2 separate regions of the Homo sapiens genome follow, and region 1 is linked to region 2. Evidence: fine-mapped expression QTL. A gene starts in region 2. The other region holds a variant in brackets. All regions are shown on one strand. Distances are from middle to middle. Region 1 overlaps TRAIP (TRAF interacting protein). Region 2 holds the start of CCDC71 (coiled-coil domain containing 71).

Region 1 (4,385 bases), 680 kb before region 2:
CGATCTCGGCTCACTGCAACCTCCACCTCCTGGGTTCAAGCAATTCTCCTGCGTCAACCTCCCGAGTAGCTGGGATTACAGGCGCTCGCCACCGTGCCTGGCTAATTTTTGTATTTTTAGTAGAGACGGGGTTTCACCATGTTGGCCAGGCTGGTCTTGAACTCCTGACCTCGTGATCTGCCCGCCTCGGCCTCCCAAAGTGCTGGGATTACAGGCGTGAGCCACTGCACCTGGCCTACCTAAAGTCTTTGTGGGCATTTCTTCTGGTTTGTTTTCATAGTGCTTTTTTTTCTTGTGTACCTGTTTACTTAAAAAAATGTTTTTTTGGCTGGGCGCGGTGGCTCACAACTGTAATCCCAGCACTTTGGGAGGCCGAGGCTGGTGGATCACGAGGTCAGGAGATCGAGACCATCCTGGCTAACATGGTGAAACCCCGTCTTTACTAAAAATACAAAAAAATTAGCCGGGCATGGTGGCGGGCGCCTCTAGTCCCAGCTACTTGGAAGGCTGAGGCAGGAGAATCGCTTGAACTCAGGAGGTGGAGGTTGCAGTGAGCCGAGATTGCACCACTGCACTCCCGCCTGGGTGACAGAGCGAGACTCAGTCTTAAAAAAAAAAAAAAGTGTTTTTTTGGCTAGGCATGATGGCTCACCCCTTTAATCCCAGCACTTTGGGAGGTGGCTGGATTGCTTGAGCCCAGGGGTCCAAGACCAGTCTGGGCAACACAGTGACACCCCATCTCTACAAAAAAGTGAAAAAAATATAAATTACCTGGGCATGATGGCCTGTGCCTGCAGTCCCAACTACTTGCAAGGCTGAGGCAGGAGGATCGCTTGAGCCTGGGAGGTTGAGGCTGCAGTGACTCATGATTGTGCTGCTGCACTCCAGCCTGGATGACAGAGTGAGACCCCATTTCAAAAAAAGAACATTTTAAAATTGAAGTATAATATAGTTCAGAAAAGTACACATATTCTAAGTATATGGCTTACAGAATGTTTACAAATTGAACATATCTATGCAGCCAGAATTCAGATCAAGAAACAGGGTATGGCTGGGCGTGTTGATTCACGCCTGTGATCCCAGCACTTTGGGAGGCTGAGGTAGGCAGATTGCTTGAGCCCAGAAGTTCTAGAACAGCCTGAGCAACATGATGAAATCTCTACTAAAAACACAGAAAATTAGCCGAGCATAGTGGCATGTGCCTGTGGTCCCAGCTACCCAGGATGCTGAGGTGATCATCACCTGAGCCTGGGAGGTAGAGTCAGCTGTGAGCCATGATTGCTTTACTGCATTCCAGCCTGGGTGACAGAGTGAGACCCTGTCTCGAAAGTCCCCCCACCAAAAAAAAAAAAGAAAACAGGAAAACGCAGGCTATTGGCCGGGCATGGTGGCTCATGCCTGTAATCCCAGCATTTTGGGAGTCCGAGGCGGGTGGATCAGGAGTTTGAGAGCAGCCTGGCCAACATGGTGAAACCCTGTCTCTACTAAAAAAATATAAAAATGAGCTGGGCATGGTGGCGTGCACCCGTAACCCCAGCTACTCGGGAGGCTGAGGCAGGAGAATTGCTTGAACCTGGGAGGTGGAGGTTGCAGTGAGCCGAGATCGTGCCACTGAACTCCAGCCTGGCTGACAGAGCAAGACTCTGTCTCAAAAAAAAAAAAAAAAAAAAAATGCAGACTATTATCAGCTCTAGAAACCTTCTAGAAACCTCCTTATATGCTCTTCCAACCCCTACCAACACCTCCCTCCACCTCCCCATATTAAGATAGCTACTGTCTTGACTTTGAGAGCATAGATGAATTTTGCCTACTTTTTTTTTTTTTGAGACAGAGTCTCACTATGTCCCTCACGCTGGAGTGCAGTGGCGTGATCTCGGCTCACTGCAACCTCCACCTCCCAGGTTCAAACGATTCTTCTGCCTTAGTCTCCCAAGTAGCTGGGATTACAGGCGTGCGCCACCACACCCGGCTAATTTTTCTATTTTTAGTAGAGACGGGGTTTCACCATGTTGGTCAGGCTGGTCTCAAACTTCTGACCTGATGATCCACCCGCCTCGACCTCCCAAAGTGCTGGGATTACAGACGTGAGCCACTGGGCCTGGCCTGCCTACTTTTAAACTGTGTAAATAGAATCATACAAAATATAACTTTTTGTATCTGGCTTCTCTTCCTCAGTGTTATGTTTTTGTGATTTATTCATAATATTGTTCTTAGCTGTAGACTCATTTATTCTTGCTGTGTAGTATTCCACTGCGCCTGGTTACTCTTGATTATATGTTGTACATGGTATTTGAAAACTTATGGGAATTTTAGCTGGGCATGGTGGTGCACGCCTGTGGTCCCAGCTACTCGGGAGGCTGAGGTGGGAGGATTGCTCGAGCCTGGGAGGCG[A/G]AGGTTGCAGTAAGCCAAGATCACACCACTGCGCTCCAGCCTGGGTGACAGATTGAGACCCCATCTCAAAAAAAAAAAAAAAAAAAAAAAAGAAAAGAAAAGAAAATGTACTTATAGGAATCTTTGAGGCCAGGATGATGGTATCATTTTCCAGAGAGGACTTAGTTTCTCCCTGGTCCCTAGGAGTAGGGGAGTCTACTAGTAGGAGACTAATTAAAGTTTAAGGCTTGAGCTTTGCTGGACCACCTGCATAGATGATGCAAAGCTCAGCTGTGTTTTGCTTTTACCACTACTTACTTTTTTTTTTGAGATGGAGTCTCGCTCTGTCGCCCAGGCTGGAGTGTAGTGGCACAATCTCAGCTCACTGCAATCTCCGCCTCCCAGGTTCACACCATTCTCCTGCCTCAGCCTCCCGAGTAGCTGGGACTACAGGTGCCTGCCACCACGTCCGGCTAATGTTTTGTATTTTTAGTAGAGATGGAGTTTCACCATGTTAGTCAGGATGGTCTCAATCTCCTGACCTTGTGATCTGCCCGCCTCGGCCTCCCAAAGTGCTGGGATTACAGGCGTGAGCCACTGCGCCCGGCCACTCTTTTTTTTTTTTAATTAAAAAAATTTTTTTGATTGGGCACAGTGGCTTATACCAATAGTTCCAGCACTTTGGGAGGCTGAGGTGGGAGGAGCACTTAAGCTCAGGAGTTGAGACCAGCTTGGGCAGCACAGTGAGACCCTGCCTCTATTCTGTAAAAAACAAAAAAACAAAAAATTTAATTTAAAAAAATTTTATGGCTGGGTATGGTGGCTCATACCTGTAATCCCAGCACTTTGGGAGGCTGAGGCAGGTGGATCACTTGAGGTCAGGAGTTCAAGACCAGCCTGGCCAACATGGTGAAACCCTGTCTCTACTAAAAACAAAAATTAGCTGGGCGTGGTCGCGCATGCCTGTAATCCCAGCTACCTGGGAGGCTGAGGTAGGAGAATCGTTTGAACCAAGGAGGCGGAGTTTGCAGTGAACCAAGATCGTGCCACTGCACTCCAGCCTGGGCGACAGAGCAAGACTCCACCTCAAAAAAAAAAAAAAAGTTATGAGTACATAGTAGGTATACATATTTATTGGGTTTATGAGATATTTTGATGCAGGGATACACTGTAATAATCACTTCAGGGTAAACAGAGTAGCCATCACCTCAAGCATTTATCATTTTTTTGTGTTACAAACATTCCTATTCTTTTAGTTACTTTAAAATGTACAGTAGATTATTGTTGACTGTAGTCACTCTGTTGTGCTATCAAATACTAGATTTTATTCCTTATATCTAACTTTATTTTTGTACCCTTACTTACTTTTATTTCTGGTTGATCCTTACCTTGAAAGTGTAGTCTTTGGGATTCCAGCTTAAAATGGGGGTGTTATCAGAGTCCTCATCTCTGAGGGCCCCTGAGCTTCGACTATCATCTCTCCCAACCCCAGTCAAAGCCCAGAATGTTGCCTAAAGGACAGCTTTTGGCCAAGCCAACAGGGCCAAAAAAAGGGCCAGCTGGTTGGAGTCCTGAGTACCCATCAGGCCTTGCGGGAGGTGCTGTAACTGCCTATGCTACTGTCCTCTTATTTGGGCAGGCATTGGGTCAAGGAGGAGCAGAACAGACCCTTTCGTGGTCAGAATGTTTGCCTGGCTTATGTCCCCAGACAAACCAGGGCTCATCAGTCTATTGTTCTGCTTTTCATTCCAGCCTAATTCAGTGGTTTGAGACAGCACCAAGTCGGACCTGCCCACAGTGCCGAATCCAGGTGAGAGTATTGGGGTGGGACCACCTCAACTGAAGAGATCTCCTTAGCAGAGAGCAGGAATGTGAAAAGAGCTCTGAAACTGCAATATCTCTGACCTTTTTTGGACCCTCCTGGTTTAAGGCCAGTTGAGCCTCACTTGTGCCCTTGAGTGTTTGGGAGGTCTGCTTACACCCACAGGTAGCTGGCAGATGGACTTGTTGCCTGG
Region 2 (4,385 bases):
GTTCAAGACCAGCCTGGCCAACATGGTGAAACCCCAGCTTGACTAAAAATACAAAAAATTGGCCAGGCACAGTGGCTCACGCCTGTAATCCCAGCACTTTGGGAGGCCAAGGTGGGTGGATCATTTGAGGTCAGGAGCTTGAGACCAGCCTGGCCAACATGGTGAAACCCCACCTCTACTAAAAATACAAAAATTAGCCAGGTGTGATGGCAGGCGCCTGTAGTCCCAGCTACTCTGGAGGCTGAGGTAGGAGAATTGCTTGAACCTGGGAGGCAGAGGTTGCAGTGAGCTGAGATCACGCCACTGCACTCCAGCCTGGGCAACAAAGGAGACTGTCTCAAAAAAAAAAAAAAAAAAAAAAAAAAGGAAGAAGAAGGAAAAAAAGAACCATATAAGATGCCAAATGGAAAGCAAAGATTGGGTCCTGGGATCACCCTGTGTTCTCTCCCATCTCATCCTGTCTGGTCCCAGTTGTGCCTGTAGGCTCAGCAGCCACTAGAGTCCAGGTCAAGTCAGACTGCACTCTGATGAGCGCTCCCAAAGAGTTCCATCTAGGGCATACTGGGCACCAGGAGGCAAAAAGTTCGGCCCTACCACCCCCAAAGGGAGCTAGGTACCCCCATGATCCTTATCCCTAATCTCTATCATTTCCCCAGTTCTCATGTCTGGAAGGGACACAGCACAGCCGGAGGATGGACCTACCCTTCCTGGTTTTCCATTTGCCCTAACTTCTGAGCTGAACATCACCAGAGAGGGGTCTGGATATAACTGTACTGTTGCTATCCCTGGAGGATGGGCTCTGGCTCTCCATGGAAGGGGTTTCTGTTTGCACAGCCATGGCCCACCTGCACACAGGAGGCCAACACTGCCGGCTTTGGAGAAGCTGCAGAAGGTAACTGGTTGAATCGGTCCTGAATAAGTGAACAGTCAATCTTCAACCATGGACGGCCAGAGACTGGACTCACCCACAGCTGGGGACTGGGGGCACCAAGGTGGGGCTTCCTGACTGCACCCCATGAGATCCTGGCCCCTGGGACCCTACTCTTGCTTTCTCTCCACCAGGAAAAAAAGGCTAGAAGCACTGACCCCAGAGGAACAGGAGATTTTGCAGTTCCTGCTAGATACCTTGGCTATACTTAAAAGCAGCGAGGACCTCACCATTAGTGCTGAGGCCCTGGGAAGCTAAGAGGCACCAGATGAGGCCTATGGCACTGCTGGGTGGACTAGGCACTTGTCTTTAGGAGTGCCTGGACCCCTCTGTATAAGCAGGGAAAATACAGAGCAACCAGAGGATCCTGGTTGGAAAAAGGGCAGGAAAAAGGGCTAGTACCCAGTCCCTAAATGAAGCATCCCGCCACCCTCCTGTGATTGCCAATAGGCTTCCACCTGACCCCAACTACCAAATAAGGCACCACTGCAAGGGTCAGAGTCCAAGAGTTGTGGCAATATTTCTGCCTCCTGGCTCAGGCTCTGACCCTAGTGCAAATGCCCCCACTACCTCATCCATGAAACCAGGGCTCCCAGGATGGTTCCCAACCTGGACTTGCAAACCTCTGACTAATGGGACCTTTGGTCAGAGCTGTGGAGACCACTCTGACCTCTCACTGAAGTCACAGACCCCTAGGGTTGATTTTGACCTGTGTCCTATAACCACCACCCCGTACTAGCCCAAGAGCATGGATAAAAAGACTGAGGTCCCAGACTCCTAGGCAAAAGGAAAGGGGTTCTGGGCAGTGTTAAGACTGGAAGCAGGACTTCCTTCCATTGAGGGGCTGAGGCTGGGCCAGTGACTATACCTGCCCCCACCTGCCTGAGCAAGTATACTCAGGCCCACAGTGGTATACTGGAGCCCCCAGACTCCATGTGCGCTTGGGCTTGCGTGCACCACTTGTGATCACGTGCACACCAGCCTTTCATGCCATGTGCCACAGGCCCTATTCTCAGGAAGAGAGGAAGGCCTGCTGTCCTCGGAGAAGATACCCTTACTGCAAAACAAAGGAGATCACCTGAGACTCCCTGTCAGGAGGCACTCCTCTTTCACCCTCTGGTCAGGTGTCTGGGACTGAAGTGGGCATTGTCAGTGGCTAAAGATAGATCAGAGGGTGGAAGATGGCCTGAACCTTGTCAGGAGCCCCTCCCAGATGTCAATGCACCACTAGCTCCCCTCAGAAAAGGTGTCAGATGACCCCTAATCCAGTCTTGGCCGGGCTCTAGTGAGTCCTTGCCTGGGGCCGCGTCAGAGGGCACCTCTGTTCTTCAGACTTCTGCACAGGGCCGAACGGGTTTGGAGCAGTCACCGCGGCCACCACCTCCAGGCAGTCCTCCTTGGTACCCAATCTGCTCCGCCCCCAGACTTTGTGGGGAAATGGGGTCTCAGGGGTCAAGGGTCGGTAGGGCGGGCTGGGTCCCGGAAGCGGAAGCGCAGTGCACTTCCGGCGCGCAGCGGGCGGCCATGTTGGAGCAGCGGAGGCGGCGCAGAGGCGCGTCTTGGGTCCCCGCGGCGGCGCCGGTAGGTTGGAGCCGCGGGCCTAGCCGCGCCGCGGAGGGGCGGCCCGCGAGGCGGCAGGGCGGACGGGCAAGCGGCCAACTCTTCCCGGACCCGCGTCCTCCGCCGGCCTGGCCGAGACCCCCCACCCCACCCCCACCCCGCGCCCAGCGACCCCACCCTGGGGCTGTGCGGTCCCGGTAGGGCTAGCACCGTTCACCCTGTACATTTCGCTGCCTCAGTGACCCCCGCCTCACGGCTTGGGCCCTAAGGACGTGCATTCCCAGCCTGAGGGCCCCGATCTGCCCCCTCCCCCGGTCTGCCTGTGTGGCGCCTCTCTCACGCCCTATCTTCCGTCAACTTCTCCTGCCTTCCCCGGGGGCACGTGTGAAGGGAAGTCGGAGGCCGGGCAGGAGCCTCTGTTTCCGAAGCTTCTCGAAAGCCCAGAAAACCCCTCCCAAGAGCCCAGCCTAACCTGGGTGGAAGAGCCCCCAGGTCACCCCAAATATTTGCGCTGGGGCGCGTGTGAGGGTGGGAAATAGGTCCCTCTCTCTTCTACAGTTCACAGCTCTGGGAACTACATCCCTTCAAAAAACATTAATAAAGAACTAAAGTCATGTGCAAGGATTGTGCTTGGAGAACGGTCTCTGGGGAGGGGAAGTGCCCAAGACACCTGAGGATCCAAGAATGTTTCCAAACAAAGAGCCCTAGGGCATTTCCTCCAGGGTATTCTGAAGACTTCATCTGCTGCATTAGAGCGGTGGGAAGAAACTACACAGACGGGCCTCATGGCCCGAGGGACCTGCCTGATCCTGGCTGATCTTTTAATGCTCTGGTGCAGCTGGGGAGCTGCCTCTTGCTTCTGGGAACCCTCAGTGTTGGGTTGGGTATTAGATGTTAGTTATGATTGATGTCCACAGCTTCTTTAAAGAAGTCTGGGAGTAGTTAGGTGTTCTCAGTCACCTCCATCTGGGCTGTACTGAGGTCTGTGGCCCTCCAAGTCTTAGGTAGGACAGTGCATACCGCTAATGTCCCCTTGACTCACCATCCTACTTGCAGCCTTTGGCTCCCATTGTCCTTAAACTTTGGGATCTTGGTCTGGCTTCCTGGTCCCTGGTCTGCCTGGTTGCCTAGAGAGATGTCATTGGCACCTGCTACTCATCAGCTTTTTAGTTTCTGTTGAAGAAAAGTCCGACTCTTGATTAGGTCTCCATGCCTCTGGAGCTAGAAAATGGGTTGCTGAGTACCCTGTCTAGAGACTGAAAACAGAACTTCTGGTGGGCAGGGAGATTCCCCCACCCCACTCCAGCTCCACACATGAACAGCAGCAGCTGGAGAAACAGATGGGCATGGACAGTGGGTGTAAGTCTGGGCCCTTTGGCTAACATTCAGGGTTCTTTGTTGCTCTATCCTCGCCTGTTTTTTCACCTAGATCCCAGATCCCACACCAAGTATGCCTTAACCCTTTCTCACTTTGGAGCCATTGCATTAGCTATTCCCCTTTTTGTTCCATTTCCATCTAATCATTTTTCATTCATCACTCATATCCTAGCTAGGTGTTGTCTCTCCCAGGAATCCTTTCCTGACCCATTGGCAAACTGAGCTGAATGCCAGCATTCACTCCCAAGAATCTTAACAGTGTCTTTTTCTGGCCTTCTAACCTAGGTTCCTTGAGGACAGGGATATTGCCTGTATTCCCAGAGCTGAGTAATTCTAGGTTTCTGGCTTCAGAAAATACAGAGTTGAATTAAAATGTACCAGGCTCAAATCTTTTCAGGGACCCGGCAGCAGGTTGGATGGCTCTGAGGTATTTCTGAGCATGTATCTTGAAGAAACTCCCTGATCCTTAGCCTCTCCTCCCACCCCAGCATGGTAGAGGGTCAGGAGACCAGGGTTTTAC

Evidence for each region. PIP is the estimated chance that this variant, and not a neighbour inherited with it, causes the effect.
Region 1: its variant is the best candidate, but not a certain one, in a credible set for the expression of CCDC71 in whole blood (TOPMed, PIP 0.74).

Annotation. Positions count from the first base shown.
Region 1 is chr3:49,847,938-49,852,322 of GRCh38, reverse strand. TRAIP (TRAF interacting protein) reads left to right here. Exons shown (of 15, transcript NM_005879.3): 2 at 4,123-4,180. Among named protein-coding and RNA genes, the nearest start is that of TRAIP, 6.4 kb to the left of the region's middle. The variant A/G (reference allele first, on the strand shown) is at 2,392.
Region 2 is chr3:49,164,391-49,168,775 of GRCh38, reverse strand. It overlaps CCDC71 (coiled-coil domain containing 71), which reads left to right and starts at 2,445. Exons shown (of 2, transcript NM_022903.4): 1 at 2,445-2,509. RefSeq lists enhancers at 2,164-2,283, 2,304-2,373 and silencers at 2,524-2,603, 2,624-2,683.